Homo sapiens: one gene and its partners. Each later gene encodes a partner of the first gene's protein in a complex. Links are inferred from orthologs where the notes say so. Each region holds a gene or a part of one and is shown in the gene's direction. Other genes may lie near its edges. The genes, in order: NTS, NTSR1 and SORT1.

Region 1 (10,549 bases):
AGAAAGGGAAAGCCCTATGTGTCAAGCACAAATCAAGTCTGTCTTTTTCTTATGTCTACTAACATCCCACTGGCCAAAGCAAGTCTCATTTCCTAAGTTAAAGTCAAAGAGTGAGGAAGTATATTTCATCCACTCTGGGAGGAGTAAGGGAATGAATATTTGATGAACAGTAATCACAGTTTTCATTGCAGATCTTTAACAAAAAAGCTTAGCATGTTGCACAAAAGCCAGAAGACCAATGTGCTTGAAACATAGGAACAGAAGGGGAGAATGGTGGAATATGATGATAGAGAGGAAGACAAAACCCACTCAGGTAGCATAGGCCATCATCAGGCATGACAAGAGGAAACCTTTAGAATGTTTTAAGCAGAGAATGACAGGAATAGATTTACATTTTTAAAAACTTTTCTGGAGTTTTTGAAAGCTGAAAGGGATCAAGGTTGTAGGGAGACTACTCAAATGGTTATTATGGCAGCGCAGGAGAAAGATGGTGGTGGCTTGGACTTAGGTGGCAAAAATGACATAAGGAAAAGTAGTTAGATTTGAAATATATTTTGGAACAGACCTGCACCCCAGGGGGTTTTGCTAGCTTGGAAGTGGAGGGGAGAGAGAAACAATGTAAATGGATTCTAGTTTTTAGATCTGTGCAACTCAGTAAATCATGGTTCTAATAATTGAAATGAAAAACTCTAGAGGGGCAGAAGATTATTAGAAAGATGTTTGGAGGAATCAAAAGTTTTACTTTAGACAATAAGTCTGCCTAATGAAACTCCAAGTAGGGCTGCTAATGAGGTGATTGCATATACAATTTGAGTAGTCAGAGATACAAACTTGGAGGTTATTAGGAAATAGATAGGATTCAAAACCATAAGACTTATCAGATTCACTGGGAAAGCACAGTAAATTTAAAAAGAATCATAAACCCAAGGAGTATGAATAATATAAAACCATTACATTCCAAATTTAACATGTAATATCTTCTTGAGAAAAAGAAAAAAAGTGTTTCACTGAATTTGCTCCTGATAGACGGTAGCTCAAGTACATCTGCTCTGTTTCAGGTATTGCAGGTGCTATGGAAATTTTCTTAGACTTTGTAATATTAAAAAAGAAAAGAGAAAGTTTTCTTATAATAAGAATTTGTCTCATTTATTACATTAGATAATTACACTAATTTATAAAACTAAGAAACATGAAAGAAGAAATTTGTCAGGAACATTTTTTTCTGTAATACTTTTATTTTGGTCTTATTCAAAAGGGAGACCTATAAGGAAAACTACCTGAGCATTACACATAATGGGTGGTGATTTTGTGAGTATTTACATTTTTTCCTAGACACGAGAAGCAAGATTATAGGTGAAGTCAGCAATGGCTGCAATGTGGAGCATGGTTAGTTAAATACAGTAACTCATTAACATGTAAGTCCCAAGCAAACCGTATTTTGTAATTACGGTTTAAGTTGCAAAATATGCTTTGACTACAGAAGTCAGTCATCAATTTTTCCAGGTTAATTACCTATATGGATGCAATAACAGAGATAGGAAGAGCTGAAAGGAAATGAGCTAGGAATTTGTAAGGATTATGGGCAAAGCAAGGTTACATGCAGATTGGGAAACTGAACGTTTGTTTACATTTACCTAAATCTCCAAGGTTGGGTTATACACATCCTATGTGGGTGTATGCATGCACACATCCATCTGTATTTCTAGAAAATATACTTTAATTGAACAGAAAAATCAATTGGGTTCACAGACTTTGACATCATTATTTGTTCAGATGAATCAGAGTTACAGCTTCAAATGATAGACTCATTTATAGAAATGGAGCAAACTCACAATTTATCTAAACATTCAGCTGATGATTGTACATGATCCAAGGACAATCTTCTTGAATGATTTTTTTAAAGTTAACATTTCCAGTCAGAGAGGAAAAGGATGATGAGAGAAAAGGCTGAGAAAACTGACTATAAAAGCTCACATAAAATATGAAGATTAATGATAACAAAAGAGTGTTAAAAGGTGTGGCTGAAAGAAACATTTAAAATTAAAACATGGAAAGGGCATGTAAGAAATTAAACGTAATCAGTATTTTCATTTAATTTAGTAAGTATGTATTGATCACTTATGGATTATAAACCTTAGAAGTCAGAATGTTCTCCTTCTAGCAGTTTACAGTTTACCATAAACTGTATAAACAAACTACGGAGCATTTAACAGAAAACTAGGAAAAATAGAAGTAGACGAGACTACTTTCAGGACTCAAACTTGGAAATGTTTTTGTTGATTAAGCCATAAAATACAGGATGATCATAGGAAGGTGAAGGGGAGATTCCAGGTTGTAAAAACACAACAGGCCAAGTTTCAGGTATTTAGGTTACCAAAAGATTGGAAAATCCTGGAAGCTGTTAATGAGGTATTAAAGTCACCAGAGCTATAGGAAAAAACCATAAGGAACTGAAAAACCAACCCTTGATCAGTTGGTTCCAGAGCTTGCCCTTCTCCAAACAAAATAAGCTTACAGACCACTCTTTCTAACTGCCAATTCTTCAGGTGTCTCTGTTGATTATTTTCAGCAATTACCTAATAAAGGTCTGACATAAGTAACAGTACAAGCTTAGAAATCTACCTACTTTAGAGATGTTGTAATCAACAGGTACCTAACAGGTAACATCCACTTAAGAAGGCCAACACAGGAATATTATTAAAGGACAATGCTTAAAATCTTTATCAGATATTTTAAGAACTAGGTAACCCTTAGAAGGATCTAAGGTATGCCGGGCATGGTGGCTCACGCCTGTAATCCCAGCACTTTGGGAGGCCGAGGTGGGCGGATCATGAGGTCAAGAGATCGAGACCATCCTGGCCAACATGGTGAAACCCCGTCTCTACTAAAAATACAAGAATTAGCTGGGCCTGGTGGTGTGCCTGTAGTCCCAGCTACTCGGGGGGCTGAGGCAGGAGAGTTGCTTGAACCCAGGAGGTGGAGACTGCAGTGAGCCGAGATCACACCACTGCACTCCAGCCTGGTGACAGAGAGAAGCTCCATCTCAAAAAAAAAAAAAAAGAAAAAAGAAAAAGGATCTGGGGTAAAAAGCCTTTAAAATAAAAACAGTTCACCCATCTCCATAGCAAGGTGTCTACAATCCTGCATTAAAGGCATCATTTAGGAAGTTCGTAGGGTACTTTTTAAGTGGAAAAATACATACTTAACCTTTATCCCTACAACAAATTGTTTTATTGGTTTATGTGTAGCTTGAAGGCATTAGATTAGAGCAAGAAACAAAAAGCCTAACACATTAAAGAAAATACCAATTAGAGGTCAAAGTTTATCTACATCATAATTTTACCAAAGTTATACATCTTTTTTCCCCAAAAGAAAAGTAGCATATAGCATCTATTTGAATTTGAATTATTTGACATAACTTAATGTTTCCCCTATTCTTGAATATTTATCACATATCTCAATTTTCACATTAACAACTAATATCCATGTTATATATTTAAAATGAATTTCCATTAATTCTTCTCCCCCTTTTTTCTAATTAATTAGGGATCAATTTTGTCAACATATTGAAGAAATCATCTGAGGAAAATAAGAATCACATTTCCTTTTTACTATTAGACTGCTATCACACATTTTAAAAGATCATTCTTTGTATTTGCAATTCAAAAGCAGAGAAAACAACTAATTTAATTATCATGCAAAGTATATATAATTTTCCCGATTTGTTAATCAAAGTGGCTTTAAGAGGATTCTGTCACAAAGATGCTCTGATAGTAACAGGAAAGTAAGCACAAATCCTCACTGAGACTCTGTTAAGTGAAAACCAAGTGTTTCAAGCTTCCATTGCTCCCCCTAATGGTAGGAAAGCAGAAAACATCTAGACGTATGTATTTCACATTTGTCAACTAAATACTTTACAGAAACCTTCCTCCATGTGAGTATGTTCAATATTGTGTTTTATGTAAGTTCAGAAAACAAACTAAAAGTAATAAATATATCAGTTATTATTAAATTTCTGGTATTATATGAAAGACTCCTTGCTATTCTAAGTAATTATTAAATGTTTGGATTTAATCGCTTTGCTTAAGTTTTGGGTAAAGGTGAAAAAGTTAAACTCATAGATTGTATAATATAAATCAATTATCTATAGGAACCAATCCTATTTTTTCTCAACTGTTACTACATGATTGATTTATTTAAAAATTAAACAAGACTCAGACAACTTTACATTCAAATATTCACATCTCTAACAGCACTGACTTGTCAAATTACCCCATGTATCTTGAAATGCTTACTACAAGAAGAAAGTTTTACTCTAAAAGGCATTTTGAACAATTTTCTTTTGAGAACTCAGACAAAGAATGGGTATCAGTGTAACTCATGAAATACATGAAGACTATCATAGAAAAGTGACTTTGGTGAATGGTGGTTATTTAGGATTGTCTCCTTTCCAAAAGTACAATCTCTTTTTTTATGGTGAAAAGAGTATTATAACAGGGAAAGAAAGCCGATGCAATAGTAAAAACTGTTGAGAAGGGAATTATACAAAGAGTGAGACATGGCATCAAGAATGAATTCAAAAAGAGCAGAAAAATATAGGCATAAAAAGAGATAATGTACAGAAAAAAAGTCAGTGATACAACAACACAAATTTTTACCTGCTAGAATGTAAGTAATTTAGAGCTGGATTTTATAAACATGAAATTGTTTTTCTAATACATTCAACCAAAAGTCAGCACACATAGTTCAGTCATCTCTCATTACTTACAATAAAATATTTTCTATTTGTTAGGAAATAATATCTTATTCCCTGGATCTATTATTTCTTTTTATTGATTTTCTTTCTATTCTCTAAACTTAATTGCTTAATTTTTATAACTGATTCTCTGTCTCTATTCCATCTTATTCCAGCATGGATTATTTAAAACCTGTATTAGTTTTGGAACCACTAAACATTTGCTCAGAAGTTTGAATTACCAGAGAAGCACCCTAACTCTTCAAGAACTTCCAAGCCTAAGGAATCACTGATTTCATGCATTCATCCTGGAGATTTTCCTTAAAAATTAGAAATAACAGATCTCATGTTTCACAAAATCAAAATGACAACTTTTGGAGTGGGGGAATGAGAAGTGGGAAAAGGATGATACTGGGGGTTCTTTGTCAGTATGCTGTATGTATGCTGTATGTCAGTGCAGTTGAATGACTCCTTCTGTGCGTCAGAAATCCAAAGCAGCAGCAGCAGCAATTAGGGAAGATCGTCACTTTCACTCAAGGTTCAGAAATGGGGGAGGAGAGCAGGGGGGACAAAGGAAAAGGGGAGGAGAAAGCAGGGCAAAGAGGGGAGGGATGGAGGTGAAGATAGGGCACATCCTGCAAAGATAATGTCTGTACAATCAATGACATCATCCTCCTGCTTATATATATAGGGGAATGGCCAGAGCACCTCTCATAGTTCACTCACTTTCAAAGCCAGCTGAAGGAAAGAGGAAGTGCTAGAGAGAGCCCCCTTCAGTGTGCTTCTGACTTTTACGGACTTGGCTTGTTAGAAGGCTGAAAGATGATGGCAGGAATGAAAATCCAGCTTGTATGCATGCTACTCCTGGCTTTCAGCTCCTGGAGTCTGTGCTCAGGTAAGCAAAACAGAATTTCACAACTCCCTGAAGTGATTTCTTTTTTCTCTTTTGCAGTGTGTTGCTACTTATGTTAATGTATCTGGGGAGAAGAGTTGCTCCCTTTTATTCAGGATTTACCTTTTAGTGACAGAAACTGAGTATCTCTTTCTCTGCCTTTATGATTACTGAGAGATGTATTTTCTCTTTTAAAATCTGCAAAGCAATAAAAGGGATTTCAATGAAACACTGCACGACCTCCTTTGGAATTCAACAACTAGAGGGAAAAAAACCCTACAAAACTTTCAATTAGGCTGATCATTATCTAATGAGAAATACAGAGGCAGTGGCTGTCAACCTGCAAACCCATCATTAAATCCCATTCCATTCAAAATGTTTTACTCTCATCCTCATTCATTCTCTTAGGAAGCGGTGGCCCTCACGCCCTTGTAATAGTCCCCGTATTATTTTCTTGTTTGTGTTAAGATAACAAATAAAGTGAAAATTGATACTTAGTGAAAAATGAAGCATTATTTGTAGAAAATTATTTCTAGAAAAATACAAAAATATTCCAGATCCTTTTTGAGAACAGAATTTGCATAGTCTAATAAGTGTGCTATTAATATAACTGTTTGGCATTTTTTCCATGCCATTTAAGTTAATACAAAATACAATTGGAAAATTGGTATTCTTATATTGATGGAAATTATTTGACTTTAGAGTGTTTTGCATGTGGTTTGAAAGAAGTTATATAGTCCTAAGTATCTACGAATAACTCACTTTGAAAATAAGACTTAAATTGAAAGGTATAACATGAAATATTACAACCATTGCAAAAGGCTCTACTTAATATTTAAGAAATATTACAATGAACACTTCAAAGGGAAAAGAACACATTAGGAAGCAAATGCAGCAAAAATAATTTAACCTGTTCTGTGCTTTTATGTATCATAAATATGACATGGAAATGTTTAACTCAAACTCATGCTATCATTTGATTTAAATTATGAAATTAAAATCTAAGAAGATATAAATGTGATTTATACAAAATTTTAAATTTATTTTAATCATCAGAACATAACTTTCAGCTTCTACTTTTTAAATCTTATGAGAAAAAACAAACTTTTCTATAATTATGATTTTATCTGAAAGTTATATGAGATTAAAGATTCACATACTTCTGGAAGAAAAACTGGGTTATTGATTAAGCACTGTGTTTATTAACTTGAAACTACTTGTTGTAATAATGCAATAGTTATAAGGATTTTGGTATACATTGTTCATAAATTCCTAAAACAGATTATGTCTCTAACAAATAGTGAGAAAAGATCTCTTGTATAATTTAGGTTCTAGGTAAAATTAAGCCAATGGGTTCTCCAATTGTGGCATTTCTTTTTACTGAGTGTGTAGTACAAGGAAGATAGAGTCATTTTTAACTTTATTTTTATTATTGTATAGTATTTTCCAAATTTTCCTTCTCTGTAAAATATTCATTAACAGAAACTTGGATAGAGTTTTTTAAAAATCCAGAGATCCATTTTCAATGCTGTTGTACATGTGTTGTTGAACAGCTCCACTTTTGCTTTAAACAATTTCCTTAAATGCCTATGAAAAAATTGAGGATACATAATTTTGAATTCTCTTAAAGTACAATACAATTCTTTCAACGTGTGTTTTGTAAAAAACATCTCAAGTTAAGTAAACCTCAGTATCTTTATTATTCTAAAATTATCAGTAAGCAATTCCCTTTGGTTTTGTCTTGAAAAAGTCTCTTGTATAGTCTTCATTATGTTGTGTTTTTAAATGTTAATATGCATATTTTCTATATATGTAAACTGTGGCTGGTAAGAAATAAGCTACTCTAGCATATTTGGTAAAATATGTGTTATACAATGTAATCACATTTTTAAAGCCTGAAATTCAAAGATTAAACAACTCCCAGTGATCAATAGCTGTCTGAAAAATAATCATATGCTTATTTTCTTAGAAGTGCTTCTACTATTTTAGCTTCCTATTATGCTAAAGTATAACTATAATTTGTTTTTTAGGATTACTATTTTTAAGAAAATACATAAGAAAGACACTAACCTCTAAGATTTTTTTTTAGATTAACCTAAAATCTGTAGATTATGATATAATTATATGATATGTAATTATAGTAAACCTGATTTTGATTTTACTCAGATTCAGAAGAGGAAATGAAAGCATTAGAAGCAGATTTCTTGACCAATATGCATACATCAAAGGTAACTTTTTCTTTTCTTTAACCCTGAGTTGAAGAACATATGAACTTTCATTATAAACATGGTATCCTTTTCCCATAGTAATAACTTCTCATCAAGATTGAAAAGTTCCTTGAGAGGCATTTCCTTTTTGAAAAAAAAAATTTCTTTTAGTTAAAAGAAGTTAAAGGTGTTGATATGACAGGCAAAGAAATTATAATTCTATCAATCAGCATGTTGCAATTTTAATTAATTGCCACACATATTTACTTGCCTGTAAATGTTTTTAAAGGAACTTGCTTCCATGCCTTTTACATTGGGTATGATGAAAGGTATATTGGTCTCAAGTTAAATGAAAACAAAGTGAGCTCTTTGCCTTTTTTATTATATTGGGGGAAATAAAAAGGTGTTCCTAAATTAGAAATAAAAGTTCATGACAACCTGCAAAAGAAATGTAGTATAGAGGGGATAGCAATGGACTGGTAAGCAGGAGCATTGAGATCTAATCCTGAAACAGTGACTTATTAAATATTTTATCTTTAGCAAGTGGATTAGTTCACCTTGCTTACCTGTGTTTCCTTGTTTTTAAATGCAGGGATTGCAGTTCGTAATCTTCTAGACATTTACCGTTCTACAATGTATTTAGGAATTACTAAACTGTACTCTTCATTGTATGTCTGGATTTAAATTCTCCCTATAACAAACATGTTATTTTTACATGTTCTTTTTTTTTTTTTTTTTAATTGAGCCAAATACAACTTTGTATCCTGGGCCCTATTACTCCTCTATTGGGGTCTTGAAAGCCAGTTTTTAAAATTCCAATCTGTACCTAGGAATACGTTCTGGGGTACATGGGCAGGATGTGCAGGTTTGTTAGATAGGCAAACATATGCCTTGGTGGTTTTCTGCACCTATCAACCCATCACCTAGGTATTAAGCCTAGCATGCATTAGCCCTTCCTCCTCCACTCCACCCTCTGACAGGCCCCGGTGTGGGTTGTTCCCCTTCCTGTGCCCATGTGTTCTCATTGTTTAGTACTCAATCAGAATACCAATGGCTACAACCTCTTCAGTTCAAAAATAGACAACTGAAGTTAATAGTCCGTGTTAGAAAATGGGATAAGTTAGGTGTCTTGGTGTCTTGGTATAGGTTTACCTAATTCCCAGATGCAAGTTAATACATGAAGGTTCTATATAATCTGTGATGCTACCCATAACAATTATTAATGTGTGGAATGCATTACTAGCCTCATACTTTGTAATTGTCCACATTTAATAATACCATCTTTGTCACTGCTCCATTACATGTTAAGCTGAAATGTAATAGAGACAGAATAATTTTTTATTTTTAATTTTTCATCTGTGATATATATATCATTTATATATTTCTGCCATCATTTTAATTTCCTTGCTTTCTTACTTTGCTCTGTGTGTACACACATAAGTGCATGTATATGTGAATATAACTATTGCATTTTATTAAACAGAAGTTATGAGATATTGGCAGTATACAACTTTGTGAACTGATGTTACTAAATAAATAACACTATATTTATTAGACTGGAGTAGCAATTAGACCCTAAATGTGATGGTTTAGCACACTAGGAATTCATTTCTTGCTCATGTAACACAAGTTTTAATTGCAGGGGTTTTTTTAATATATTTCAGATTAGTAAAGCACATGTTCCCTCTTGGAAGATGACTCTGCTAAATGTTTGCAGTCTTGTAAATAATTTGAACAGCCCAGCTGAGGAAACAGGAGAAGTTCATGAAGAGGAGCTTGTTGCAAGAAGGAAACTTCCTACTGCTTTAGATGGCTTTAGCTTGGAAGCAATGTTGACAATATACCAGCTCCACAAAATCTGTCACAGCAGGGCTTTTCAACACTGGGAGGTATAGCAATAACAAAATATTAATATGATTATAGTTACACTAGTTAGCTCTCATTTATATTAATTTCTTAAATTCCCAATCATAATCATAACAAGAAGAGTTACAAGTATTGAAGAAGAACAAGCCATGTTTTGAAGTCAACATTGCTTCAGATCTTCAAAGTGTCCTTCAAATATTTGAAACTCAGCAAAATATGTTTTTCTTCAATATTAAAAAGAGGATATATCTTAAGGCAGATTTGATCCACATGTTTTTATTATGCTTAAGTGGATGGCATGTTTAGACAATTTTTGTTGTTGTAGGTGGTGGCATGTCTAACAAATTTAAGCAACTCAAAATGTTGTCTTAGAAACACAAAGTCATATGTAGTGATCTATAAACAAACACAGAATATAAAGTTTCCAAGTAAAACTGGAATAAAACATAAATATTTGTATTTAAATATATTAGGCAAATAAAAATATATTTTTATGTACATAAAATATATTTTTATGTATATTTTAATGTACATAAAATATATTTTTATGTATATTTTATGTACGTAAAATATATTTTTATGTATATTTTATGTACGTAAAATATATTTTTATGTATATTTTATGTACGTAAAATATATTTTTATGTATATTTTATGTACGTAAAATATATTATATATATATTTTATGTATGTAAAATATATTATACATAATTTTATGTATATTTTATGTATATACCATATATTTTATGTATATTTTATGTATATAAAATATATTTAATGTATATTTTATGTATATTTTATGTATATAAAACATATTTTATGTATATAAAATATATTTTTATGTATATT
Region 2 (10,373 bases), on another chromosome or scaffold:
GTGGGGACGATGTTTCTGCGGGGAAGGTTGTGAGGATCTGCGTGTGGCGGCGGTGTTGTGGTGAGGTGTGTAAAACTGGAGCCGAGTGACTAAGGGCCCTCCAAGGGTCTGAGCAAAGCGCCGTGGGAATGCGGGTGGGAAGCCCCCTTGGGAATCAGTTTGGCTGAGGTTCGTGGCACGGGGGGTTCCAGTGCTGGAGGGGAGGGCTGATCAAACCAAAGCCCCGAGCAGGAGGCTGGTGTCCAGGGAGGAAGTCAGGGCCGGTCGGGAACTTTGAAAGGCATCTTGGAAATGAGCAGCCTTAGAAGTGTGGGGTTTCCTCCATTTCTGGTGGGCTAAGGAAGCCAGAGGGTGAAGGATCCGGGCAGAGTCGCCTACCTCTGCCCAGCTAGAGGGGCCAGGGTGGCTGGCTGTCCCCCCAACTCCCCACACACCAGCATCGCCAGCCTCCCAGCTAAGCTTCTGTAGTTGCCTGGGCACCCCGCGTATGCCAGTATGCCCGGTGGGGGTGAGGGCAGCAGTGCCGGGCAGGGGGTCACCTGTCTGTCACTCCCTGGGCCCTAACTGACCCTCCACTGGCCACCACCCAGGTGGGCTGGGGGGTGGAGGAGGGTAGAACTGAGCTCCCAGTCTCCCTGGCTGCACATAGAACTGGTGGCTACAGGTGTCCCATCTCGGGGAGGCCCCTCCCACAGACACTGGTGGCAGGCAGTGAGTCAGGGCTGCTTTGCTTCTGCGGCGAGAGTCCCTCCCCTCACCAGAGGCAGAAGTAGGCACGGCCTGTGGGGTAAACACAGTGAGAAATGACCTCTCCCTCCCTTTGAGGCTTTATCTGCTCTCCCCAAGCTCCTGTCTTTGATTGGCATTGGCCAGGGGGAACCTCTCCCCAGTCCGCGTGGAGGGGCCCCAGGGGCGACAGCCACTCAGTCCTTCAGAAGGTGGGCAGTGGAGGGGTCAGCGCTGTCACTGCCCACCCAGGAGATGCCCCCACTCAGACCCCGGATCCCCCCACTCAGACCCCCGATCCCCCCGCTCAGATCCCCGATCCCCCCGCTCAGAACCCCGATCCCCCTGCTCCCCTGGCAAAAGGCCAGGAGCTCACCAGCCTCCTGCAGTCCTCAAAAACAAACAGCCGAAAAGCACAGGGGCGTGAGGACAGCTCGGCTCCGCCCCCCGGAAAGTGTCCTCCCCGCGTGCGTGGGCTCTCTGCCAGGTACTTGGGATTGGGCACCTGGGGGACATCACTTTGCCTCCCAAAGCACCACCTGCCCAGCCTTGTTGCTCAGAGGCTGCGAGGCAGATTTGGCCAAGTCACGCTACGGCCGGCCACAGGCACTCGTCCAATCGCAGAGGCCTGTGACGTATCAACCGTAGGACAGCGGCCCCACGCCCTGCAGACGCCATGCTGGCCGAGCGTTGCTGAAGGCACCCTTGGAGAACGTAGTTTCCATTTTTCTTTAAAGGGCTCAGCTGCGTGCCTGGGAGCAGCTGATTACAAGGGTGCTCCTCCATCCGATGCTGATGACCTGGGGCTTTCCAGGGCCCCGATGCCAGCTGCTCTGTGTGCTTGAAAAGAACATTCCTCGTAGGAGAGGCCTTGGCTTCCCCTGACCCCTGCCCCGCCATTTGCCATTTTATGAAAGGTTTCCCCGGAATTAGGGGGTTTACGGTCCCCACGTGGGCTTCTGGGCCATTGGCAGATCTGGGCAAACATCCACGGTTTTCAGATGGTGATGTCTGGCTGAAGAGGGGCTGGATACCCTGAGCTAAGTGTCTCCCTCTCAGTGACCATGTTTGGAAGTGTTGGGGCAGTGGCCAATCAAATGGCCCCTCTTTCCAAAACAGGGGTCCTTTCCTGCCCCAGCGTCTCCTACGAAATTTTGGCCTGGGCACTTGCAAACAGAAATTGTGTTTAGAAATGAGGTGGTTCAGTGATAACACTTTGGAGCAACTTACAATAATCCTCCCTGAAGCCAGCTGGGCATTTTCCTAGTGTGTAGCTGGGACTGGGAGTTGATGGTGGAGTGGGCAGGGCTCTCAGGTCAGCAGACAGGACCTGGTGCCCAGGACCCTCCCAAAGGCCCCAGACCTGGCCCTGGTGCCAGCAGGGTGACTGGGAGGAGGAGCTGGGGGCTCAGGGACCTACGGGTGCCCCTGGGTTCCCCTGGACTGTCCTACCCATCCTCTAACCCACCCGCACACGTGGCCCCACACGGGCAGATGGCCCTTGCTTCTTGGATGGTCCCCCATGGCCCAGGCCCAACCTCCAGCTCAGCTTTGACCTCGGCTGTGACAGGGTCCCAGTGGCACACGATCTGTGTGGCAGGGCTCAGGGCTGATGGCCCAGATGGTGGGTCATCAGAGTCCCATGCTTATCTGTCATCTGTCCATGGCGTGTATACTGAACGTGTGCACACATGTGTGTGTCCAGGGGCCCACAGTGGCAGGGGCCTGGGACTTCAGGTGTCCGATTCAAATCAGATGAGGTGGCTGCAGCCTTTGAAACAGTTTTAGAGACCCGCCCCTGACTATGGCCACACACGAAAGCAAACCCTCCCAGCCTCACAGGCACGAGTCCATTAGACCCTCCTGAGCAGCCGTGAGGACTCCTTTCATCATTGCCATTTTCTGCACCAAGGGAGTCCTGCTCCTGCAGGCTCAGCCTCCCTGCCTCCTCCTTGTTTTTTCTGAAAGCCTTCTTCATATTGAGTACAAACAGCAGTGCTCTTCGCTGGGTTAGACCCCAACTCAGAGGGCACCTGCTCCCTCCCAGGGGCAGACAGGGGCCTCAATTTGTGCAGGAGGCGCTGGTGTCCTACAACCCCTGCTCCAGAGGCGTCCAGGAGCAGACAGATCACAGGGCGACTTGGCAAACACCCCAGCCGTTCAGGGCTGGCAGAATTCCGGGAAAGGAGAGGCGGCTGAGACAGGGAAGGAGACAGGTTCCAGTGAAATCTGGCCATGGATTATTTCAGGGCTCCTGTCCCGTGCCCCAGGCTGTGCCCAGCAACCTCCACAGGCAGCATCCTTGTTCTTAGGAAGGATACAGAGGTGTTTAGAGTGTGGAGTCTGCAACTTATTCTCAAATCATTCAGAAAGAAAGGTGTGGCCAAATGGAAGGAGAGCAAGCAGACAGTGAATCAAGGGAGGAGACTGCTTGCGGGTCATGCGGCATTGGGCTGCAGCCCTGCCACAGGCAGCTGAGTGTCCTGGGCATTCTTCCTGCAACTGTTCTGCAGTAGGAACTTTTTCAAGTTAGAAAGTTGCAGAAGGCCGGGCGTGGTGGCTCACACCTGTAATCCCAGCACTTTGGGAGGCTGAGGCAGGCGGATCACCTGAGGTCAGGAGTTCAAGCCCAGCCTGGCCAACATGGCGAAAACCCATCTCTACTAAAAATACAAAAATTAGCTGGGCGTCGTGAAGGATGCCTGTAATCCCAGCTACTTGGGAGGCTGAGGCAGGAGAATCGCTTGAGCTTGGGAGGCGGAGGTTGCAGTGAGCCAAGATCACACCACTGCACTCCAGCCTGGGTGACAACTGTCTCAAAGAAAAAAAAAGTTGCAGAAGAAGTTCTTCAAGGGGTCCTTAGGAACAGCCTGCTCCACTCTGACCTCCCGTGAGGACGGGAAGGGGACCCACGCCACGCAGCTGTGGGCAGCTCTGGCTCTGGCCGTAGCGGCCACAGTGTCCTCACCTGCAGCGCAGGGCATAGAGGGCTGTTGGTGTGGGGCCAAGAGTCACACACTTCCTCCAGTCTGAGCCCATGACCCTTTAGAGGAAAGGAATGGAGTATTTTTCCTGCCTTTTCTATTCAAACGGTACTTTAGAATAACCCAAGAGTAGATAAAAGGCAGTGTCTCAGCCCAGAAATGTTCATCAATAAGTGAAGAAGGAGCAGGATGGTCAGAATACCACCCATCAGGTGCAATCCTCATAAATCAATGGATGTAGGCATGGATTCTTGACAGCTGCTGGGGTCACGAAGGGGAGAGAGTTAGGTGTGAGGTGAGCCCTGGTGTGCACACAGCCTCGTGGCATCCTTGGAGCAAAGCCATTGAATCTGAATCTCATGGAGCCCCTGATCCAACACACAGGACACACCAGGGACAGAGGAACAGGGACAAATGTACCATTAGGATGCAGCCAGCAAAACCCAGACCACAAGAAACAGCTCCAAATAAACAACTCGTTCTGTTCTACAAACAGTGAGGGAATCGGAGACGGTGGCCTGGTTTCTTAGCAAAGACTCGGACAAGTCAACCTGTCGCAGAAAGCCGGCACCAAAGCTGATCATTCTTCCTGCCAAGAAACAGCAAAAAAGCCTAGGTAGTGAATAGCTACAAATTCTTGTTGTCCAGAGCTGTTGTGGGTATGGTTTTCAAAATGGTCCTGCTCTCTTAGAGGTACATGCGGAAATGTTTACAGACAAAATGATGCAATGTCTCAGATTTACTGAAGCGTGATCTGGGGGAAGGGGCTGTGGGAGGGCTACAGAGGAGACAAGATTGGTCTTAAGTCTGTAATCATGGAAAGTGAGTGTTGATGACATTTTTGGCATGTTTGAAAAATTTAGTAATTAAAAGTTTTCAAAAGGTTAAGGTGCTATATGTTGGAAATAAAGAATTTGGCGTATGAAATCACCGTTCAGATGGTGACTCTGAGGCTGTGGGGGGTGAGAGGGCAGGACAGGGAGGTGACCTTGGCCTTGTTCCAGGCACCAGACCTGCCTGTTGGAGCCAGGTGGGAGACGGCAGGGTGAGGACGTGCAGACATGCGGGTCCACCTCTGTACCCCGTAACCCCGTTTCCCAGATGAAGCAGAGGGCAGAGCCACCTGTGCACATCACGTGGCTGGAGAGAGACAGGGCCTGGAGGTGCTCTCAGAAGGGAAGGCCTAGCCTGACCCTGTGGTGCTCCCCGTGGGGACAACGGTCAGGCTTTTGAGTGAGATGGGCAAGGGTGGGAACGTGAGGGGCCCAGAGCTGGCCATGGCTGGCTCTGACTGGGCTTGGAGTCCTCGAGAGTGACTTGGCCCAGAGTGGTTCAGGCTCACCTGTTCACAGCTCTGCATTGTGACCCGGGGTCAGCTCTCCCGGGCTGTCCTGCACTTGGACTGACAGCATTCTGAGGATGTTCAACTCCAAGGACAAATGGGGTCCTGGGGCTGTGCCTGCAGTTCTGTGGGTACTGAGGGCAGCAAGGGGGTACAGCCACCCTGTGCTTGCCAAGAACCACCACAAGCCACCCCACAGGTGAGGCAGGCCTCAGGCAGCAGCCCAGGGATCTCCAGGTCTGTTCTCAGGGGCACTGGGGCTCCCAGCTGGTAACATCTGATGATGGGCAGAGAGGGCCCTGGGCTGAGCAGGGCCCGAGAGGACGTCCGACCTGTGCACGAACCAGAGGCTGCCTTCGTTTTTCTCAATCAAATCTCACGTGGTGATCTAGTAGTTTGTATTAAGAGAAGAAAGAAGCTTTTCTTTATTTTTGATTCATGGTGAAACACACATCACTTAAAATGTGCTGTTTTACCATCTGGAAGGGCACAGTTGAGCGGCGTGAAGCACGTTCACATTGCTGTGCAACCGTCGCCACCATCCACCTCCAGAACCTTCTCTCTCCCCAGACTGAAACTCTGTCCCCATTAAACCCTGACCCCCAGCGCCTGGTAACCTCTTTTCTGCTTTCTGGCTCGGTGAGGTGGATGACTCAGACTGGCAGAATCTCAGGCCTCCCCTGGGTCTTCTCTAAGATGCAGGTTCTTGAAGGCAGGCTTGCTGCTGAAAGACGCCAGACTCCAAGGCCCTGGGTGATTCCAAGCACTTGAGGTTCTGGACAACGCTGAGCCGTTGGGACAGGAGGAAGGTCGGAGGAGGGGTGGGGTGGCCATAGGGGCGCTGGGAACTCTGGGGTGACGGAAATGTTCTGTATCTTCGTTGTGGATCATAGCTCGTGGTTTCAGCGCGTTAGTCCCGCCTCCGTGAGTCTGTGTTGGTTGTGGTTCAAAGCTCGTGGGGCTGTAGACTGAGGGGTGGATTTCAGCGCGTGTTAGTCCTGCCTCCGTGAGTCTGTGAAAAACAACAGCAGCAGAGAGTGACCGAGCTGCCGTCCGCTCAAGGCTGTTTCGGGTGGCCAGGTCCTCCCTCCTGTGGGCCTGTGTGCACTCAAGATCGTCCTCCCCTGGACGGCCATGAAGGGCTGTGAAGAGCATGAGCCCCCATCCCGGCAGCCCCTCGCTCCCTGACCAGGCTGCTGCCTGCACGAGGCTAGCTCTGCAAGGGGGGCACGGAGGGGAATAGAGATCCTGGTTCTTGGCGCTTGGTGGGGATGGTGTTACTGAGGTCACAGCCATGGGGTCTGCCTGTCTCAGAGACCCCCACTGTTCCCCCGCCATGCCCTGGAGTTTGACCTTGCCATCGCCAGTGAAGGCGCAGTGGCCAAGGGGCTGTCCCCGTCCATGTGTCACCCCAAGGGGAATGCACAGCTCCGGAGGGGGACCACCGGGCTCTGCAGCGTCAATGAAGAAACTGAGGCCCAGAGCGGGGCAAGGCGCCTGCCCCACCCTGGTGCCCACTGCTCTTCCCAAAAGCATTGCCAGTGGGGCACCACCCACCCCAGGAGGGCAAGGTGAGAGCCCTGGGTCTGGAGTGCCACGTGGACCTGGCACAGGTTGGAGAGGGGAGGTGCCCAGCATGCTGACCCACCCGAAGCCACCCGTGCCTACTTTGGGATTTTACATCCCTGTGCACCTGTGGGGGCTGTGTCCTACATACCCAGGGCTGGCTCCTGAAGGCAGTCAGGGAAGCAAGAAGGAGATCAGGAGAATGCTTCCCGAGAATAGGTGGTTTTGGGTTGTCCCCAGTGGCTTGGAATGGCTGGCTTGCCAGAACCCAGGTTCAAATCCCAGCTTCACCACTGGCCAGCAGCACGACTCTGGGCAAATGGTGTGACCATCTGTGCCTCTGTTTCCCCATAAGCCAACTGGAGGTAGCGATTGCCCTGCAGTCTCATGAGTTAATGACATAAAACGCTGGAGACTGTGCCTGGGGTGGAAGAAGGACTCAATCGCCCATGAGCATGATTTGTGTTCTCCCCTGGACAACGGCAGAAATGCAGCAGCGCTTGGGAGGGCTGGGAGCCTCCCCAGGCAGGAGGAATTCTCTTCTGAGCATCTGGGCTAACATCTTTCCTTCCTTCCTTCATTCACTCATCATTCATTCACTGAACACCTACCACATGCCAGGATGGGGGTATAGCAGCCCAAAAAAACTGGCAAAAAGTTCTGGCCCTTTGAACTCACGTCCCATCAGAGAAGACAGAAAATAAGCGAAATAAATAGGCACCATACATGGCCGGCAAGGAGTAACGAGAGCCGCAGAGAAAACCACACGGGGGGAGCGTGGGGGTGCAGGCAGGTCAGGAAGGCCTCGTGCAGACCCTGCAGGAGCACTCCGGTGGGCGTCGGGGAAGATGCCAGGTAGGGGAACAGCAGGTGCAAAGACCCCAGGGCAGGCACGTGCTGGGGGTGCTGGAGGAACAGCGCTGGCCTGGCGGGGTGGCCGGAGCGGAGGGAGCAGAGGGCCGTGTGAGAAGCCACGGGCAGATCATGCCTCGTAGACCTCGCCACAGCTTTTATTCTGGAAGAAGTGAGTGGGCGTGGGAGATTCTGAGCAGAGCCGCCACGTGACTTACACGTTAAAGGGACAGTTCTGACTGCTTTGTGGAGAATGCATTTAGGGGTCAGAATGGTTGGGAAGCTGCTGCTGGATGCCTGGGGAGTGACCAAGGAGTCCTAGGCCAGGGTGGGGGTGGAGAAGGTGGCGGAGAGGGGTTGGATACCAGAGACGTGCTTTTCGTTGTTCCTACTTCATTTTTCGACTGACAGGCAATAAGATTCCCTTCTGTGCTTGTTCGCACCTATGAGCTTCGATAAATGCAGCCATGTATCCCCACTTCAGAAGACACACCGGCCCCCGCCCTCCAGCCCTGTGGCCCACCCGCCCCGATGCCCGCCCCTCCACCCACTGGTCCGCTCTCCTCCCCCACAGCTTTGCCTTTTCTGGGACGTCGAGTGAATGGAGCCAGCTGGGCTGTGGCCTCTCGAGCCGGCCTTCTTCCTTCACTGCATCCTCTGAGCTGTTGCCTGCATTGACCAGGCGTTCCTTTTTATTGTGCAGTCAGATCCATTCTGTGGATGGACCACGTTTTGTTGAGGCATTTGCCCACCAAAAGACTTCTGGGTTGTTTCTGGGTTTGGGCGATTATGAATAAAGTAGCTACAAATATTCACATATGATGAATTTTGTGTGAATATACATTTTCATTTCTCATGAGTAAATACGTAGGTTTCAGATTGCTGGGTCATACAGAAAGTGTATGTTTGCCAGTGTTTCCTAAGCGATGCGCTGTTTTGAACGTCCCTCACCCTAGCCTTAACCCACATGAAGCAGTGGTCACTCTGCATCCTGGCCAGCTCCTGGTCTTGCCTCACTGCTCTGGCTATGACGTCCAGTATGATGGTGAATAGGAGTGATGAGAGTAGACATCCTTGCCTTGCTTCCAGTCCCTTTTTTTTTCTTTCAAAAAAAAAAAAAAGTTTTTCGTTTATTTAAGTTTTTGTTAGAGCTCTTTATAAAGTTAGGAAAGTTTCCTTATATTCCTAGTGTGCTGAGAGATTTTTTTCTTCATCGTGAATGAATGTTAAATTTTGTGCAGTGATTTTTCTGTCTCATCATGTGGCAAGATCATGTGGATTTTCTCCATTAGTCAGTTAATGTGGTGAATTATATTGATTACTTTCCAGTTGTGATAAAATGTACATCACGTAAAATTTACCACTTTAATCAATATAAGTGCACAGTTCTGTGGCACTAAGTACACTGTCACATGACCATCTCCACCCTCCCTCTCGGTACATCGTCATACGATCATCCCCACCCTCCCTCTCGGTACATCGTCATGCGACCATCTCCACCCTCCCTCTCCAGAGCTCTTTTCATCTTTCCAAACTGAAGCTCTGCGCCTGTTAAACACTAACTCCCCATCTCCTCCTCCCCCAGCCCCTGGCAACCGCCATTCTACTTTTTGTCTCTGTGAATTTGACCACTCCGGGGGCCAAATATAAGTGGAAAACCTTGGTTAATTCTTGAATGATGAACCAGCCTCACATTCCTGGGATAGACCTCATTTCGTCGTGTATTAGCTGGTTTTGACTTGCTAGTGTTTTGCTGAGAATTTTTGTGTCTATGCTCATGAGAAATATTGGTCTGTAAGTTTATTTTCCTGGGTTATCTTCATCTGGTTTTCTGGCCTCATAACATGAGCTGGGAGGTTCTTGTTCCTTTTGTGTTTTCTGTCAGAGGTTGTGTAGAATTGGCATGATTTCCTCTTTAAAGCTTTGGTAGATTGTCCAGCAAAACCATCCGGGCCTGGAGTTTTGTAGGAAGGTTTTTATAAATTCAATTCTTTTCAAAGAAACCAGGTGTAGTGGTTCAGGCCTGTAATCCCAGCACCGTGGGAGGCCAAGGAGGGTGGATCACCTGAGGTCAGGAGTTTGAGACCAGCCTGGCCAACAGGATGAAACCCTGTCTCTACTAAAAATACAAAACTTAGCCAGGTGTGGTGGTGGGCACCTGTAGTCCTGGCAACTCGGGAGGCTAAGGCAGGAGAATCGCTTTAACTCGGGAGGTGGAGGTTGCAATGAACCGAGATCACGCCACTGCACACCAGCCTAGGTGACAGAGCGAGACTCCATCTCACAAGACAAATTATTTTAAAAGATAAAGGAATATTCAGGTTATATATTTCTCCTTGAGTAAGTGTTAGTAATTTGTATCTTTTGAGGAATTGGTCCATATAATCTATTTTGTCAAATTTTAGAGCATAGATTTATTTGTGGTATTCTGTCATCATCCTTTTAATGTCTGTGGGGTCAGTAATAGTGTCTCCTTGTTCATTTCTAATATTGGTAATCTGTGACTTCTCTCTTTTCTCCTTGGGCAATATGGCTAGGATTTTATTAACATTATTGTTCTTTTTCAAGAATGAGCTTTTGATTTCATTGATTTTTTTTCTATTGTCTTTTAGCTTTCAATTTTATTTATTTATATTTCTTTCTTCATTTCCTTTTTCTGCTTGCTTTGGGTTTAATTTGCTCTTCTTTTCCTAGATTTCCTAAGGTGGGAGCTTGGATTATTGATTTAAGATCTTTATTCTTTTCTAACATAAACATGAAATGCTATAAACATCCTCCTAATTAATGCTTTAGTGGCATCTCAAAATTTTTGAACATTGTATTCTAATTTAGATCAAAATTTTTTTATATCTTGAGATTCCCTCTTTAACCTTTGTGTTATTTACAAATGTGTTGTTTAGTTT
Region 3 (10,373 bases), on another chromosome or scaffold:
TGATAAATGGCTGTTCAGGTCCTTTGCCCATTTTTTAGTTGGATTATTTGTTTTCTTGCTACTGATTTGTTTGGATATTAACCCCTTATAAGATGTATGGTTTGCAAGTATTTTCTCCCATTCTGTGTATTGTTTGTCTTCTCTCTTTTGGTGGTTTCCTTTATTTTGCAGAAGCTTTTTAGTTTGATACAATCTGATTTGTCTGTTTTTGTTTTTTGTTGCCTGTGCTTTTAGGGTCGTATCCAAAAAGCCATTGCCCAGATGAATGTCAAGAAGCTTTTTTCCCTATATTTCCTTCTAGTAGTTTTACAGTTTCAAGTCTTACATTTATGTCTCTAATCCATTTTGAGTTGATTTTTGTACATGACATGAAATAAGGATTGAGGCCAGGTGTGGTGGCTCACGCCTGTAATCCCAGCACTTTGGGAGGCCAAGGAGGGTGGATCACGAGGTCAGGAGATCGAGACCATCCTGGCCAACATGGTGAAATCCCGTCTCTACCAAAAATACAAAAATTAGCTGGGTATGGTGATGTGCACCTGTAGTCCCAGCTACTTGGGAGACTGAGGCAGGAGAATTGCTTGAACCTGGGAGGCGGAGGTTGCAGTGAGCCGAGACCGCACCATTGCACTCCAGCCTGGCGACAGAGCAAGACTCCATCTCAAAAAAAAGAAAGAAGGGTTGAAATTTATTCTTCTGCATATAGATATTCAGTTTTCCCAGCACCGTTTATTTAAGAGGCTGTCTTTTTCACATTGTGTGTTCTTGACACCCTTGTCAAAGTTAAGTTGACAATAAATGCATAGATTTATTTCTGTGCTCTCTATTCTGTTCCATTGGTCTATTTGTTTTTAACGCCAGTACCATGCTGTTTTGATTACTATAGCTCAATAATATATTTTGAAATTAGGTAGCATGATACCCCCAGCTTTGTTCTTTTTGCTTGCAATTACTTTGGTTATTCAGGGTCTTTTGTGGTTCCATATAAATTTTAGGATTTTTTCTATTTCTGTGAAAAATACCATTGGAATTTTTTTTAAGAGGCAAAGTCTTAGTCTGTCACCCTGACTGGGGTCCAGTGGAATAATCATAGGTCACTGCAGCCTCAAACTCCTAGGCTCACACAATCCTCCCACGTCCCAAGTAGCTAGGTGTGTACCACCACACCTGTCTAATTTTGGTACTTTTTGGTAGAGATGGGGTTTCACCATGTTGCCCAAGCTAGTCTTGAACTCCTGGCCTCAAGTGATCCTACCACCTCAGCCTCTCAGCTGGGATTACAGATGTGAGCCACCACAACTGGTTGTTTTGTTCTTGATGTACCTTAAGTACCTAAAACAGTGCCTGAAATATAGCAGGTACTCAGTAAACATCTGATGAATTAACGTGTTTGGATTGTTCTGTGTTGTCACAGAAAGAGGGTTATTTATAACCATATAATAGTAAAAAAAGACAGTCAAAATAATAGGCATTACATTTAATCTGTAGATCACTTTGGGTAGTATGGACATTTTAACAATATTAATTATTCCAATCCAGGAACATAGGATATATTTCCTTTTTTTTTTTTTTGTCATCTTCAATTTCTTTCATCAATGTTTTGTAGTTTTTAGTCTTTCACCTCCTTGGTTAAATTTATCCCTAAGTTTTTTTTGTTTTTTTTTTTTAAGTTTTTTTCTTGTACTATTGTAGATGAAATTTTCTTGATTTCTTTTTTGGATAGTTTGTTGTTAGTGTATATTGTATTTTTATATGTTGATTTTATATTCTGCAACTTTTTTGAATTTATTAGTTTTAACATTTTTGGTGGAGTCTTTAAAGATTAAGGATTTTTATATATAAGCTCATGTCACCTGCAGACAGACAATTTTACCTCTTTCTTTCTGGTTTGGATGCTTTTTGTTTTTATTTCTTTTTCTTACTTAATTGCTCCAGCTAGGACTTCCATTACTATAATGAACAGAAGTGGTGAGAATGGGCATCTTTGTCTTATTCCTGATCTTAGAGGAAAAGGTTTAGCTTTTGACTGTTTGAGTATGATGTTAGCTGTGGGCTTGTCACATATAGCCTTTATTATGTTGAGGTATATCCCTTTTATACCTAATTTATTGAGAGTTTTTATCATGAATGGGTTTATTATGTTGAGGTATATCCCTTTTATACCTAATTTATTGAGAGTTTTTATCATGAATGGGTGTTGAAATTTGTTAAGTGCTTTTTCTGGATTTATCAAGATGATATGATTTCTATCCTTCATTCTATTAATGTGGCATATCTCATTTATTGATTTGCATATGTTGAACCATCCTTGCATTCCACAGATAGATCCTACTTGATCATGGTATATAATCTGTTTAATATGCTGTTGAATTCAGTTTGTTAGTATTTTGTTGAGAATTTTTGCATCTATGTTCATCAGAGATATTGACCTGTAATTTTGTTTTCTTCTAGTGTCCTTGTCTGGTTTTGGTAGCAGGGTAATACCACCCTTATAAAATGAGTTTGGAAGTGTTCCATTCTCTTCAATTTTTGGAAGAGTTTGAGAAGGATCGGTCTTAATTCTTCTTTGAAGAAAGTTTGCTAGAATTCACCATTGAATCCATCAGGTCCTAGGCTTTTCTTGTTGGGAGGTTTTTGATTACTGATTGAGCCTCCTTACTCATATTAGTATGTTCAGATTTTCTATTTCTTCTTCATGATACAGTCTTGGTAAGCTGTATATGTCTAGAAATTCATCCATTTTTTTCTAGATTATCCAATTTGTTGATGTATAGTTGTTCATAGTAGTCTCTTAGGATCCTTTGTTTTTTCTGTAGTATAAGTTATAATGTCTCCTCTTACATTTCTGATTTTACTTGAGTCTTTTCTTTTTTTCTTATTCTAATTAAAAGTTTGTCACTTTTTTATCTTGTCAAAAAAAACAACTCTAAGTTTCATTGATCTTTCCTGTTATTTTTCTAACTTCTATTTCAGTTATTTCTGCTCTGTTATTATTTCCTCCCTTCTGCTAACTTTGGGCTTAGTTTGTTCTTTTTCTAGTTCCTTGAGGTATAAAGTTAAGATTTTTGAGATTTTTCTTTTTTCTTAATGTAGACATTTATCACCATAAACTTTCTTCTTAGAACTGCTTTTGCTGCATCCCTTAAGTTTTAATATGTTGTGTTTCCCTTTTCATTTGTCTCAAGTTTTTTTTATTTCCCTTTGACTCATTGGTTGTTCAAGAATATGTTGTTCAATTTCCACATTCATGTGAATTTTCCAATTTTCCTCCCTTTACTGATTCTAGTTTCATAATGTTGTAGTTGAAAAGAACTTGAGGCCAGGCACACTGGCTCACGCCTATAATCCTTGCACTTTGGGAGGCTGAGGTGGGTGGATCACGAGGTCAGGAGTTCAAGACCAGCCTGGCCGACTTGGTCTCTACTAAAAATACAAAAAAAAAATAGCTGGGCGTGGCAGCGGGTGCCTTTAATCCCAGCTACTCAGGAGGCTGAGGCAGAGAATTGTTTGAACCCGGGAGGCGGAGCTTGCAGTGAGCCAAGATCACGCCACTGCACTCCAGCCCAGGTGACAGAGTGAGACTCCGTCTCAAAAAAAAAAGAAAGGATACTTGAGGTGATTTCAGTCTTACATTTGTTAAGGCTTGTTTTGTGGCCTAACATATGCACTATCCTGGAGAATATTCTCTGTGCACTTGAAAAGAATGTATATTCTGCTGCTATTGGATAGAATGTTCTGTATATGTCTGTTAGGTCCATTTGTATGGTGTTGTTCAAGTTTGCTCTTTCCTTACTGGTTTTCTGTCTGGATGATCTATCATTGAAAGTAAGTATTGAAGTCCCTTACTATTATTGTATTGTCGTCTACCTCTTTCTTCAGTTCTGTTAATGTTTGCTTTATACATTTAGGTGCTCTAATGTTGAGTGCATTTATATTTACCAATGTTATATGCTCTTGATGAATTGACACCTTTATCATTGTGTGGTAACTTTCTTTATCCCTTGTGATAGTTTTTTACTTAAAGTCTATTTTGTCTGATATAAATATAGCCACCCCCGGCTGGACATGGTGGCTCACGCCTGTAATCCCAGCTCTTTGGGAGACCAAGGCGGGCGGATCACGAGGTCAGGAAATCAAGACCGTCCTCACTAACATGGTGAAACCCTGTCTCTACTAAAAATACAAAAAATTAGCCGGGTGTGGTGGCAGGCGCCTGTAGTCCCAGCTACTTGGGAGGCTGAGGCAGGAGAATGGCATGAACCCAGGAGGCAGAGCTTGCAGTGAGCTGAGATGGCACCACCGCACTCCAGCCTGGGTGGCAGAGCGACACTCCGTCTCAAAAATAAATAAATAAATATAGCCACCCCTGCTCTCTTTTGGCTACCATTTGAGTGGAATATCTTTTTTTTATCTCTACTTTTAGCCTATGTGTCCTCTTACACACATAGGCCTTTACAGATGGCTTCAGCAGGGGAAGCCCTTACCAGGTAGCTCATCCAGAGATTCTTGGGGGGGCAACTGACAGGTTCTGCAGGTAGGTGGGCCTGGTGCCTTGGTCTTTGGGGGTAGCTTGGAGGCTGGGTCCTCTGCGGCAGGCCTGGCAGTGGAATCCACTAGGGTGGACCTTTTAAGTGGGTCTTCAGGTGAAACACCTGGAGCCCGGTAAGTAGATCTGCAGGAGCCAGCCTGGTGCAGGGGTGGGCCCTACCCTGAGCCTGCAGGGGCTGGCCTGATGCAGGGGTCCACTTGGCTGGGTCTGTGAGAGTGGACCTGGAGCCTTTAAGTTTCTTAAAGACAAGACTGGATCTTATTTCGAACCACCATCACATCTTGTACGGTGTCTGAAGTATATCAGGTGCTTATCAAGTTTATTTGTGTAGAGTCAGCCTTTAAACATTGTTCAGAGGCTTTGATGTAATGCAAAAATAAAATAAACGGAGACAGGTTACCCATGAGGAAATATTTGCTTCCAGATATTGTAGTACATTTCAGAATCAAGAGTATGCCACTGAGCTACAACTCAACAACAAACAAATAGCCTGAATAAAAAATAGGCAAAGAACTTGTATAGACATTTCTCCAAACACAATATAGAAGTGACTAACAAGCATATAAAAAGAGGCTCAGCATCACTAATCATTAGGAAAATGCAAGTCAAAACCACAATGAGGTATCTCCTCACACAGATTAGGGTGGCTACTATTTTAAAAAGTGTTGGCAAGGATATGGAGAAATTGGAGCCCTGGTGCACTTTTGGTGAAAATGTAAAATGGTGCAGCTGCTACAGAAAACAGCATAGTAGTTCCTAAAAAAAATTAAAAATAGGATTATCATATCCAGCAATTCCACTTCTGGATTATACATCCAAAAGAGTTGAAAGCAGGTTCTCAAAAAGATATTTGTACAACCATGTACATAGCAACATTATTCATGATAGCCAAAAGGTAGAAGCAACTTGTGTCTATTGACAGATAAATGAGTAAATAAAGTGTGGGGTGTGTGTGGATACAGATACACACACACACTTAAATAATATTTAGCCTTTAAAAGGGAGGAAATTCTGACATATGCTATTAATACAACATGGATGAGCCTTGAGGACATTATGCCAAGTGAAATAAGTCAGACACAAAATGACAAATATTATGTGATTCTACTTATATGAGCTACCTAGAGTAGCCAACACAAAGTAATATGGTAAAAATCATAGAAAACACAAAGTAAAATGGTAGTTTCCAGGAGCTGGGAGGAGGAAGAAGTAGGTAACAGTTGCTTAATTGGTGATTGTATTTTATAAGATGAAAAAGTTTAGAGATGTGGTTGTACAACAATGTGAATATACTTAACACTACTGAACTATACACCTAAATAGTAAATAAATAGTTAAGATAGTACTTTTACCTAGGTCTGGGTTAACTTAAAGCTTTATTGGAAGGGTTTTGTGAAATGATTAAAGAAATTGTATCTTTATCTTTGGTTCTAATCTACGCTTTTGTTTCTTTTCACAGTGCAGCCTTCATATTCATGCTTCCTACAGCATCTCCCAGAAACTGAATGTTCCAATGGCCCCACTCTCAGAGCCGAATGCCGTAGGCATTGTCATTGCTCATGGTAAGGAACCTCCCACTCACCACCTCCAACTGGAACAGTGGCTGAGCACACTGAAACTCAGCCAACAGGCTTTGAACGCTCTGAGAAGAAACAATGTGGATGCTTTTACATTCCTTTGGTAGAATTTCTTACATTATAACAACACTTTGGGTTTTTCATCAACTTTTATCAGAGAGAGCAACACAACTTCTCCGAAGTTTTTGGTGGTTTTCTTTCCTACTAAAAGAGGCTTGATGGGAAATAATCAGAATAAATTCATTCAACATTATTCTCTCTGGAGTAAATGCTCTCTGTTTCATTGCCTATTTGTGCTAATGAGATGGTGGATTATATTGCAGGTAGCGTGGGGGATGCCATCTCAGTGATGGTTCCAGATGTGTACATCTCAGATGATGGGGGTTACTCCTGGACAAAGATGCTGGAAGGACCCCACTATTACACCATCCTGGATTCTGGAGGCATCATTGTGGCCATTGAGCACAGCAGCCGTCCTATCAATGTGATTAAGTATGCATGAACTCATCTCACACACACTGTCTGCATAGAGGGCAACTGGGGGAATGTTCTTCAGTTTATTGGGGGGATGTTACAGACTATAATTCAAATTTTTGCATTTGACAGAACTATAGATAAGATTCTAGAAAGGATTGCTTTTAATTGGCAACTCAGATTAAATGGCATTGTTTTTTCTTCTGACTGCCTTTAGCTAACATATTTGTCACTTCTTAAAAACATTCTTTCTGGGTTGGGCGCAGTGGCTCATGCCTGTAATCCCAGCATTTTGGGAGGCCAAAGCAGGAGGATCGCTTGAGGCCAGGAGTTCAAGACCAGCCTGGGCAACATAGGGAGACCTTGTCCCTTGTCTCTAATATTATTTCAATCAAAAAAAAAACCATATATATATATATGTGTGTGTGTATATATGTATGTGTGTGTGTGTATATATATGTGTATATATATGTATATATATGTGTATATATATGTGTATGTGTGTATATATGTGTGTATATATATGTGTGTGTGTGTGTGTATGTATATATATATATATATATATATATATATATATATATTCTTTCTGTCTACAAAATTATTATGGAAGCGTTCAAGCACTCTAGATTGAAAATGACTTCTTAAGTACAAGTTCTGAGCTGGGTGCAGAGGCACACACCTGTAATCCCAGCACTTTGAGAGGCCAAGGTGGGTGGATTGCTTGAGCCCAAGAGTTCAAGACCAGCCTGGGCAATGTGACAAAACCCTGTCTCCACAAAAAAAAAAAAAGAAAAATTAGCTGGGCGTGGTGGTGCACGCCTTTGGTTCCAGCTACTTGGGAGGCCGAGGTGGGAGGATCACCTGAGGAGGTCAAGGCCACAGTGAGCTGAGATCGTACCACTGCACTCCAGCCTGGGTGACAGAGTGAGATCCCGTCTCAAAAAAAAAAAAAAAAGAAGTATAAGTTCTTATAAAATAATTTGATTGTTATTTATTTATTTATTTATTGAGATGGAGTTTTGCTCTTGTCACCCAGGCTGGAGTGCAATGGTGCAATCTTGGCTCACTGCAACCTCTGCCTCCCAGGTTCAAATGATTCTTGCGTCTCAGTCACCTGAGCAGCTGAGATTACAGGCATGCACCACCACACCCAGCTAATTTTTGTGGTTTTTTGTTTTGCTTTGTTTTTTGTGTTTTGGTAGAGACGGGGTTTTGTTGTGTTGGTCAGGCTGGTCTCGAACTCCTAACCTCAGGTGATTCACCTGCCTCAGCCTCCCAAAATTCTGGGATTACAGGCGTGAGCCACCACAGCCAGCCTTAAATTTATTAATTTAAAAGCCAGTTCTTACCTGGGTCACTCTCCTGTCTTTCCTTTGAAATAATTTCTGTAAAGGTATTTACTTTCATATTCTCTCTGAACAAATCTCTTCCTTATCCTGTTAACTACAGACGTTAAAAGTTAAAATAGTTGGCTGGGTGCGGTGGCTCACGCCTATAATCCCAGCACTTTGGGAGGCCAAGGTGGGAAGATTACCTGAGGTCAGGAGTTCAAGACCAGCCTGCCCAACATGTGAAACTCCATTTCTACTAAAAATACAAAAATTAGCTGGTGTGGTGGCACGTTCCTGTAATCCCAGCTACTCAGGAGGCTGAGGCATGAGAGAGAATCACTTGAACCCAGGAGGCAGAGGTTGCAGTGAGTCGAGATCGCGCCACTGCACTCCAGCCCGGTGACAGAGTGAGACTCCATCTCAGAAAAAAAAAAAAAAAAAAAAAAAGTTAAAATAATTGTCAGCCAATAAGCCACCACCTAAATGTAAGGGGTTTTGTCTGGTTTGGGATCAAAAAGCCAGAGTGGTTTTCTGAATTCCCAGTACACATTGATCCTCTGTCATGATCTTTCTGTAATTGTGGTTTCAGGTTCTCCACAGACGAAGGTCAATGCTGGCAAACCTACACGTTCACCAGGGACCCCATCTATTTCACTGGCCTAGCTTCAGAACCTGGAGCTAGGTCCATGAATATCAGCATTTGGGGCTTCACAGAATCTTTCCTGACCAGCCAGTGGGTCTCCTACACCATTGATTTTAAAGATATCCTTGAAAGGAACTGTGAGTGTCTCCTTTGACCTTTTCTACCAGAAACTTCCAAGTCCATTTTCCTAAATAATCAATATGGTTTAATTTCTTTTAGCTGGAATCAGCAGATGCATATGCATATGAAAGAGGATTGACAGATGTTCTGTGTGGGTGATTAAGTAATGGAATGGCATCAGAAAAACAACCTCCTCCTCGGTGCTAGCACTGTCCAGGAGAAATATGAGGGCCACATATGTCATTTAAATTATTCTGTCAGCTATATTATAAAAGTAAAAAGAAAGGTGATATTAATAAAATAAACTTAATATATCCAAAATATTATCATTTCAACATTAAGCAATATTAACGGCCCAGAAAATAGGTTCAGAAAAGGATTCACAATGTTCATTGCACAGTGTTTCCAAAGTGTCACAAGCAAACCCTAACCTCACTGCCAAACAAAGATGCTGGCATTATGCTAAGAAATAAGGGGAATGGCCAGGCGCGGTGGCTCATGCCTGTAATCCTAGCACTTTGAGAGGCCAAGATAGGCAGATCACGAGGTCAGGAGTTCGAAACCAGCCTGGCCAACAGGGCGAAACTCCATCTCTACTAAAAATAGAAAAATTAGCCAGGTAAGGTGGCGGGTGCCTGTAAGGTGGCGGGTCCCAGCTAGTTGGGAGGCTGAGGCAGGAGAATCATTTGAACCCGAGAGGAAGAGGTTGCAATGAGCCAAGATCATGCCATTGCACTCCAGCCTGGGCGACAAGAGCAAGACTCTGTCTCAAAAAAAAAAGAAGGGGGATAAAGAAAAACACTGGAAAAAGGATGACCTGTAGTTAAGTGTTGGCATAATACAATAAAAGACTTAACGTTTCTAGACACTCTAGTTGAATTTGGTCCTTTGAGACTGTCGTGGGCTCATTTCCTCAGCGTGTTGATTTAGTGACTCCTGAAGGAGCAGACCCTTGGTTTGGACCTCACATTTCCATAAGACGTTCAAATAGATTTAATGCCTGAGGGTCGCTGTCATCTAAATCCATTCAGTAGACTGTACAGAAGCTGGCTTGGGAGTTCTCCCCTCAGCAGGCAGCTCCCAGTTACCCCTAAAGTGTAATGTCATTAAAAGATTTGTTAAGCACCTGCTCTTTAGCAGGCTGTATGCTGGTCTTCATATCCCAAAGGATAAAACCTAATCCACTGTCTTTAGGTCACAGCCTTTGAGTCATTTTTCCAGTAGATGATACGACATACTAAGCCAGAAACTAGGTTTATCAGCAATATGCATTTGAGAGCCGGTCAACTGAGCTAGAAGTCTAGGAAAAGGATGTTTTCCCTTCTTCCTTAAGCCAATGAACACATGGTGAAATTGAACCTGTGCTCTTGGCTAATTAGTATCTTGTCCTAAACAAAGAGCTCCCTGGTCCTGAGTGGAGAATATCTGGTTGCTTACCTCTGACAGCTCCTACTGACTGAGGGCGTAGGTGTGCAAGACACACACAGCAGCCTCTTAGTTTGGAAGGAACTTGAGAGATTTTCTATCCAGCTTCCCACTTCAAAACAAATAGGGTTTTTCCTAATCCTCAGATGGATGTTGAGATGGAAGGAATACTCTTTTGGCATGAGGAAATGCGATTGCTAGTAGGCTCTAGACTAGTGTAACTTTTTGTTTGCAATTCCAAAATGAAGGAATAG

What was found.
Region 2: the proteins of NTS (region 1) and NTSR1 are in contact, whole or in part, in a crystal structure (PDB 4BUO), measured with the Rattus norvegicus proteins. The link is inferred for Homo sapiens from one-to-one orthologs. Residues at the interface, in NP_001095851.1 of Rattus norvegicus: Arg157, Arg158, Pro159, Tyr160, Ile161, Leu162; in NP_001102437.1 of Rattus norvegicus: Ser53, Asp54, Leu55, Asp56, Asn58, Phe128, His132, His133, Tyr146, Met208, Val224, Cys225, Thr226, Pro227, Ile238, Arg327, Arg328, Phe331, Cys332, Tyr333, Ile334, Ser335, Asp336, Trp339, Phe344, Tyr347, His348, Tyr351.
Region 3: the proteins of NTS (region 1) and SORT1 are in contact, whole or in part, in a crystal structure (PDB 4PO7), measured with the Homo sapiens proteins. Residues at the interface, in NP_006174.1 of Homo sapiens: Leu152, Tyr153, Glu154, Asn155, Pro160, Tyr161, Ile162, Leu163; in NP_002950.3 of Homo sapiens: Val112, Ser113, Leu114, Ser115, Trp116, Lys260, Tyr304, Ser305, Phe306, Gly307, Leu308, Phe314, Ser316, Arg325, Ile327, Phe350, Tyr351, Ser352, Ile353, Tyr395, Gly399, Thr570 (codon at 8,585), Gly571 (codon at 8,588), Leu572 (codon at 8,591), Ala573 (codon at 8,594), Trp586 (codon at 8,633), Trp597 (codon at 8,666).

What each region holds. Positions count from the first base shown.
Region 1 is NC_000012.12:85,868,847-85,879,395, forward strand, and holds the start of NTS (neurotensin/neuromedin N preproprotein), read left to right. Parts: upstream 1-5,448; 5' UTR 5,449-5,557; coding exon 5,558-5,630; intron 5,631-7,793; coding exon 7,794-7,855; intron 7,856-9,498; coding exon 9,499-9,723; intron 9,724-10,549. UniProt on the Homo sapiens protein: Neurotensin may play an endocrine or paracrine role in the regulation of fat metabolism. It causes contraction of smooth muscle.
Region 2 is NC_000020.11:62,710,547-62,720,919, forward strand, and holds part of NTSR1 (neurotensin receptor type 1), read left to right. Parts: intron 1-10,373. UniProt on the Homo sapiens protein: G-protein coupled receptor for the tridecapeptide neurotensin (NTS). Signaling is effected via G proteins that activate a phosphatidylinositol-calcium second messenger system.
Region 3 is NC_000001.11:109,323,237-109,333,609, reverse strand, and holds part of SORT1 (sortilin isoform 1 preproprotein), read left to right. Parts: intron 1-6,008; coding exon 6,009-6,111; intron 6,112-6,449; coding exon 6,450-6,618; intron 6,619-8,520; coding exon 8,521-8,711; intron 8,712-10,373.